Linked DNA regions of Homo sapiens. The protein of the gene in region 1 interacts with the protein of each later gene in a pairwise test. Each region holds a gene or a part of one and is shown on either strand. Other genes may lie near its edges. The genes, in order: SHCBP1 and ZUP1.

Region 1 (3,827 bases):
TGTCTGTTGGCTGCATAAATGTCTTCTTTTGAGAAGTGTCTGTTCATATCCTTTGCCCACTTTTTGATGGGGTTGTTTGATTTTTTCTTGTAAATTTGTTTAAGTTCTTTGTAGATTCTGGATATTAGCCCTCTGTCAGATGGGTAGATTGTAAAAATTTTCTTGCATTCTGTAGGTTGCCTGTTCACTCTGATGGTAGTTTGTTCTGCTGTGCAGAAGCTCTTTAGTTTAACTAGATCCCATTTGTCAATTTTGGCTTTTGTTGCCATTGCTTTTGGTGTTTTAGTCATGAAGTCCTGCCATGCGTATGTCCTGAATGGTATTGCCTAGATTTTCTTCTAGGGTTTTAATGGTTTTAGGTCTAACATTTAAGTCTTTAATCCATCTTGAATTAATTTTTGTAAGGTGTAAGGAAGGGATCCAGTTTCAGCTTTCTACATATGACTAGCCAGTTTTCCCAGCACCATTTATTAAATAGGGAATCCTTTCCCCATTTCTTGTTTTTGTCAGGTTTGTCAAAGATCAGATGGTTGTAGATGTGTGGTATTATTTCTGAGGGCTCTGTTCTGTTCCATTGGTCTATATCTCTGTTTTGGTACCAGTACCATGCTGTTTTGGTTACTGTAGTCTTGTAGTATAGTTTGAAGTCAGGTAGCGTGATGCCTCCAGCTTTGTTCTTTTGGCTTAGGATTGTCTTGGCGATGTGGGCTCTTTTTTGGTTCCATATGAACTTTAAAGTAGTTTTTCCAATTCTGTGAAGAAAGTCCTTGGTAGCTTGATGGGGATGGCATTGAATCTATAAATTACCTTGGGCAGTATGGCCATTTTCATGATATTGATTCTTCCTATCCATGAGCATGGAATGTTCTTCCATTTGTGTCCTCTTTTATTTCATTGAGCAGTGGTTTGTAGTTCTCCTTGAAGAGGTCCTTCACATCCCTTATAAGTTGGATTCCTAAGTATTTTATTCTCTTTGAAGCAATTTTGAATGGGAGTTCACTTATGATTTGACTCTCTGTTTATCTGTTATTGGTGTATAGGAATGCTTGTGATTTTTGCACATTGATTTTGTATCCTGAGACTTTGCTGAAGTTGCTTATCAGCTTAAGGAGATATTGGGCTGAGACGATGGGGTTTTCTAGATATGCAATCATGTCATCTGCAAACAGGGACAATTTGACTTCCTCTTTTCCTAATTCAATACCCTTTATTTCTTTCTCCTGCCTGATTGCCCTGGCCAGAACTTCCAACACTATGTTGAATAGGAGTGGTGAGAGAGGGCATCCCTGTCTTGTGTGACAGTTTTCAAAGGGAATGCTTCCAGTTTTTGCCCATTGATTATGATATTGGCTGTGGGTTTGTCATAAACAGCTCTTATTATTTTGAGATACATCCCATCAATACCTAGTTTATTGAGAGTTTTTAGCATGAGACGCTGTTGAATTTTGTTGAAGGCCTTTTCTGCATCTATTGAGATAATCATGTGGTTTTTGTCTTTGGTTCTGTTTATATGATGGATTACGTTTATTGATTTGCATATGTTGAACCAGCCTTGCATCCCAGGGATGAAGCCAACTTGATCATGGTGGATAAGCTTTTTGATGTGCTGCTGGATTCGGTTTGCCAGTATTTTATTGAGGATTTTTGCATCGATGTTCATCAGGCATATTGGTCTAAATTCTCTTTTTTTGTTGTGTCTCTGCCAGGCTTTGGTATCAGGATGATGCTGGCCTCATAAAATGAGTTAGGGAGGATTCCCTCTTTTTCTATTGATTGGAATAGTTTCAGAAGGAATGGTACCAGCTCCTCTTTGTACCTCTGGTAGAATTCGGCTGTGAATCCGTCTGGTCCTAGACTTTTTTTGATTGGTAGGCTATTAAATATTGCCTCAATTTCCGAACCTGTTACTGGTCTATTCAGAGATTCAACTTCTTCCTGGTTTAGTCTTGGGAGGGTGTATGTGTTGAGGAATTTATCCATTTCTTCTAGATTTTCTAGTTTATTTGCATAGAGGTGTTTATAGTGTTCTCTGATGGTAGTTTGTATTTCTGTGGGATTGGTGGTGATATCCCCTTTATTAGTTTTTATTGCATCTATTTGATTCTTCTCTCTTTTTTCTTCTTTATTAGTCTTGCTAGTGGTCTGTCAATTTTGTTAATCTTTTCAGAAAACCAACTCCTGGATTCATTGATTTTTTGAAGGGTTTTTTGTGTCTCTATTTCCTTCAGTTCTTCTCTGATCTTAGTGATTTCTTGCCTTCTGCTAGCTTTGGAATGTGCTTTCTCTTGCTTCTCTAGTTCTTTTAATTGTGATGTTAGGGTGTCAATTTTAGATCTTTCCTGCTTTCTCTTGTGGGCATTTAGTGCTATAAATTTCCTTCTACACACTGCTTTAAATGTGTCCCAGAGATTCTGGTATGTTGTGTCTTTGTTCTCGTTGGTTTCAAAGAACATCTTTGTTTGTGCCTTCATTTCGTTATGTACCCAGTTGTCATTCAGGAGCAGGTTGTTCAGTGTCCATGTAGTGGAGCAGTTTTGTTTTGAGTGAGTTTCTTAATCCTCAGTTCTAGTTTGATTGCACTGTGGTCTGAGAGACAGTTTGTTATAATTTCTGTTCTTTTATATTTGCTGAGGAGTGCTTTACTTCCAACTATGTGGTCAATTTTGGAATAAGTGTGATGTGGTGCTGTGAAGAATGTATATTTTGTTGATTTGGGGTGGAGAGTTCTGTAGATGTCTATTAGGTCCGCTTGGTGCAGAGCTGAGTTCAATTCCTGGGTATCCTTGTTAACTTTCTGTCTTGTTGATCTGTCTAATGTTGACAGTGGGGTGTTAAAGTCTCCCATTATTATTGTGTGGGAGTCTAAGTCTCTTTGTAGGTCTCTAAGGGCATGCTTTATGAATCCGGTGCTCCTGTATTGGGTGCATATATATTTAGGATAGTTATATGCACCCATATATATTTAGGATAGTTAGCTCTTGTTGAATAGTCTTTTTCTATTGTTTTAATTTCAACTTGCCTATATTCTGTTTGAAGTGAGTTGTAGACAGCATATAGTTGAGTCATGTTTTTAATCCACTTTGGCAATCTTTGTCTTTTAATTGTATTTAGACCACTTACATTTAATTATTGATATTAAATCTTTAGTTTATTTCGTGTTTTCTGTTTGTTATGCTTTTCATTTCTTGATTTGCTTTTTTTCTGCCATCCTGTGGATAGCTGAACATTTTTCAGAATTTCATTTGTTTTTGAGAATATCTCTTCATATAACTTTTTTAGTGGTCGCCCTAGGTTGTATATTATATGTACATAACAGTTTACTGGTGTCACCAGTTCAAGTAAAGTATAGAAACCTTGCCTCCTTTTATTATTCTCTACCATCTCCTTTTTATAATTGTCTTAAACATTTGCCTTATGTACGTACATCTAGAACCATATTAGAGAATTTTATGATTTTTGTTTCAAATGTCAAACATAATTTAGAACACTCAAGAGAAGGAAAGCTTATTGTATTTACCTATATCTTTGCTTACTGTGTTCTTTTTTTTTCTTTTTGATGTTCCAGGATCTTCTCTTTTATCATTTCTTTTTTGTTTAGATAACTTCCTTTAGTCATTCTATGAAGATACGTCTGCTGGTGACAAATTTTCCTATTTTTCCTTCTTCTTAGAATATCTTGATTTCCTCCTCATTCCTGAAGAATATTTTCACTGGTTATAGGATTCTGGGTTGACAATTTTTTTTCTTTTAGCCCTTGAACAATACTGTGTGTCTTTCATCTGACGTCCATGGTTTCTGATGCTGTCAATCACATTTTCTCTCCTATA
Region 2 (3,827 bases), on another chromosome or scaffold:
AAGCTTCAACACCTTTGATAGGTATTCAAAGCCCTTTATGTACACTTTTTCTAATTCTAATTTGCCCTCCCCACAAGGGAACTATTATCCCAAGTTTGATATTTATCAGTCTCATACATGCTTTAGTACTCTTACCATGTATGTACATTTCCATAAAATATTTTGCAGGTGTTTATATATAAATGGGATACAACATGTATGCTATAAATTGTTTTGCTCAAATATATTGGTTCTTACAGTTCTACTTCATTCATTTTAGCTGCTGTGTAGTATTTCCTTGTATGAATTGTAGCTAACTTATCTTGTTTTCATATTGATAAACATTTAGATTGTTTCCAGTTTTCTACTCTTATAATTTATGAACATGTCTACTTCAGGAGTTTCTCTAGTATTACATCCAGAACTGGATGTAGCTAATTATAGCTAACTTATCTTGTTTTCATATTGATAAACATTTAGATTGCTTCCAGTTTTCTACTCTTATAATTTATGAACATGTCTACTTCAGGCGTTTCTCTAGTATTACATCCAGAACTGGAATGCTAAGTTAAAGGGCGTGCAAATCTTCAACGTTGTTAAGGTTATTATAGAATTGTTTTCCAAAGTGCTTGTAATCTACATTCACACCAGTGTATTTCACACATAGTATGGTGACACTTTTAAATTTTTGCTATTTAACAGGTTATGAGATGATACATGTTTTAATTTGCATTTTCTGGATTACTCCTGAGTTAGTTTCCTCTTGAACGAATTACCTGTTCTCTTCCTTTCTCTATTCTCTATTGAGTTGTTTGTTCTTACTGATTTATAGGAGACTGTTAAGTATTCAGAACACTATTCTTTCATTAGTTATATGAAATCCAAATATCTTTTTCAGGCCTGTGGTTTGTGTTTAAATGTTATATATAGTGCCTTTAATTAGACAGAAGTTTTGAATTTGAATGTAATCAAAGTTCTCAATCTTTCTATTTATTATTTGTGTCTTAAGTAACTCCCCCATCTTTAAGATCACAAATATATACCTTTATGTTTTCTTCAAATATTTATATTTTGCATTTCATATTTTGATTTTAAATCCACCCAGAATTTATTTGCATGTGTATGTTGGAGGGAGGAGGGAGAAGATAGGAATCTGATTATTTTCTCCTTGTTTATAACAGTCCTTATAGCAAGTACATATTATGCTTATTTATTTCACTACCATTTATTGAATCTGCATTTTCTCCACCTATTTGTGATACTATATATTATAGATTTTCATATATCCATGATTCTGTTTCTAAAGGCTGCCTTTATATTTCTTCAGGGGTCTCCATGTAAAAAAGTTCTCACTATAGCATAGAGCATCCTCCAGATGTGTGATATGATTCATTAGGATACAGGAAGAAAATATTAAATATGTCTGTAAAAAAGCACACTGTCCTGTAATATAGAAGTGATTTAGTGGCAGAGATTTTTATTTTTCGTTAATTATGCAAGTGTTAATTTAAGCAGCTATCATTTAAAGAGTCTTCACTTATATACTGCAATCTTGTTATAATTTTAACAACAGAATATAATTTAACTGAAGATAAATTTACTGTGGAAAATATCTAAAGACATTTAGGTGCTAAGGAATAAAAAGTATAAGGAAATTTCCCCCTAAAGCAGTTGCATGATGTTGCTAAGACAGTGTTGCTCTCCATCTGATATGTAACATATATACTAAAATGTACTAGAATGTTTATTACTTTCCTTTCTATTTTTTCTGTCCCCTACTCCACCTCATTCTTAAAGGGCTGCCTCAAATCTTGATCTCTTCATCAAAGTCTATGATATTAAAATCTACATTTAGCTTTCTTTCTCTGAATTCCTAGGGTACCCATTCATTCCATGCTACAACATTTAGTACTCAGTTATATACTATTTTAATTGTTGTTTTTCTTGAATTCAAGTCTTTCTAAGTTCTTTGGAAGTGGTTACAGTGATCAGTATTTCACCTTTTCATGGTGCAAGGCACAGCTACAACTATTGGTTCATTTAACTGTTTTTATTTATTGATCTTTTATTGTCTTTATTAAAGACAAAAACCCATTTTCTTCTAGGAAACCCTTCATTCAAGCAAAAAGAATTTAGTTATTGTCTTTGGTGCCACATGCTATGAGAAAGTTATGGGGCATATAATAAGATCTCCCTACCCATAGGCTTCACAGAGTCTGTAGAGTATGTAAATATACACAAAGAATTATAGTATTCTGTGACTGAATGTTGCTGGTACCTTGGGGACACAAAAATAGGGTAGAATCAGAAAAAGGGTCTATGAAGACAGTAGCATGTGAAGGATCTATAATTTTGAAACATAAGGAGAATATACTAAAAGCAGGAAAGGGGCCGAGTCAGATGTCCCTTGTCCTAACACCTTGTTTTTCCATATTATAGCACTTGTTATAGTTGGGGTCGATGACATTTTAAAGGATATTATCATATTTATCTTTTTGTACTTAGCATTTAGATAGTGCCAGGTGTATTAAAAAGTACTTAGCAAATACTGAATTTGAAAATTTAATAAAACTCTATGGGCCAAATTATGTTTAATGTGTTCAGTTAGGCCACAGCCAAAATTACAGCAAGAAGAGTAGTGTGAAATAAAGATAAGACAGTGGATAGCTTTCTGTAGACTTCATATAACATAGATTAGAACTATTCTAATTAGGTTTATAAGGCTATTAATAAGATTCCTAAACCTATTGTTCTGCCTTAAGAAAAGTTGTCTTCTGTTGTCTCAAACAAATTAATTAATCTCCCCAAATAGCAAAATGGAATATGTTACTAAAGGGTTGAAATTTAGCGTATTGGAGTATGAGATATGTTTATTATTCATGAAGTCAAGAGTTTTTAAATGAAAACATTTGTGTATTCTCATGCTTCGAAAATTGCAAAATCTGCAAAATAAAATCTTAAATTACAAAAAAATTAAAACTATTGGTAATAGGGAGCTATTAATATTTTTTGATTGGGAGCAAATTGATTAAGACTGAGTGATCTCCAGTAGTCTATACAATAAAATGGAGACACAAGAAGAACATTCATTCAACAGTTGTACTTTATGTGCTGGGCCCTGCAGATGCAGAAAATTTCAATGAACTGTAATAAATAATATGCTAGTGTTAGGAAACTTGGACTGTAGTAACAAGCAAGGACACAAACTAAGGTTATAGCAAGAAGAAGGTGAAGAAGATGGAATTAACAGGATTTAGGTATGGTGCGTGAAGGAGAGGTTGATATTAAAAATGTATGAGATAGCAATATAAAGGTGATAATGACTGCTTCTGAATCTCTTTTCTACTTTAGGAATTATTGAAGCACTTCATAGGTATTATCAGAATGCTGCCACAGATGTGAGACGGGTGTGGCTTTCTTCAGTGGTGGATCACTTTCATTCATCTTTAGGCGACAAAGGTTGGGGTTGTGGTTACAGAAATTTCCAAATGCTACTTTCATCATTATTACAAAATGATGCTTACAACGATTGCTTAAAAGGTATGTGAAATCTAGTACTCTGAACTTGTCATCTGATAAAATACATATGATATAGAATGATATAGCATACACAATTAATAGCTTTAACAGTTAGTGGATATTTATATAAGAAACCTGAATTCTGGTTAGAGGAAGAGAAAATGATAGAAGATGTCAGGAATAACTGTCTTAAAAACCGTAAAGTTCCCCGAGTACATAATACACTGCTAAATATTATTCAGTACTTTATTAACAGTCATGTAACATGTTTGCTTGTGTAATTTTAGGTATGTTGATTCCTTGCATTCCAAAAATTCAATCTATGATTG

The links.
Region 2: the proteins of SHCBP1 (region 1) and ZUP1 interact in a two-hybrid assay, tested with the Homo sapiens proteins (one large-scale study listed by BioGRID and IntAct).

What each region holds. Positions count from the first base shown.
Region 1 is NC_000016.10:46,586,730-46,590,556, reverse strand, and holds part of SHCBP1 (SHC SH2 domain-binding protein 1), read left to right. Parts: intron 1-3,751; coding exon of another isoform or gene 3,752-3,799; exon of another isoform or gene 3,800-3,827. UniProt on the Homo sapiens protein: May play a role in signaling pathways governing cellular proliferation, cell growth and differentiation. May be a component of a novel signaling pathway downstream of Shc. Acts as a positive regulator of FGF signaling in neural progenitor cells.
Region 2 is NC_000006.12:116,651,696-116,655,522, reverse strand, and holds part of ZUP1 (zinc finger-containing ubiquitin peptidase 1), read left to right. Parts: intron 1-3,330; coding exon 3,331-3,519; intron 3,520-3,785; coding exon 3,786-3,827. UniProt on the Homo sapiens protein: Deubiquitinase with endodeubiquitinase activity that specifically interacts with and cleaves 'Lys-63'-linked long polyubiquitin chains. Shows only weak activity against 'Lys-11' and 'Lys-48'-linked chains.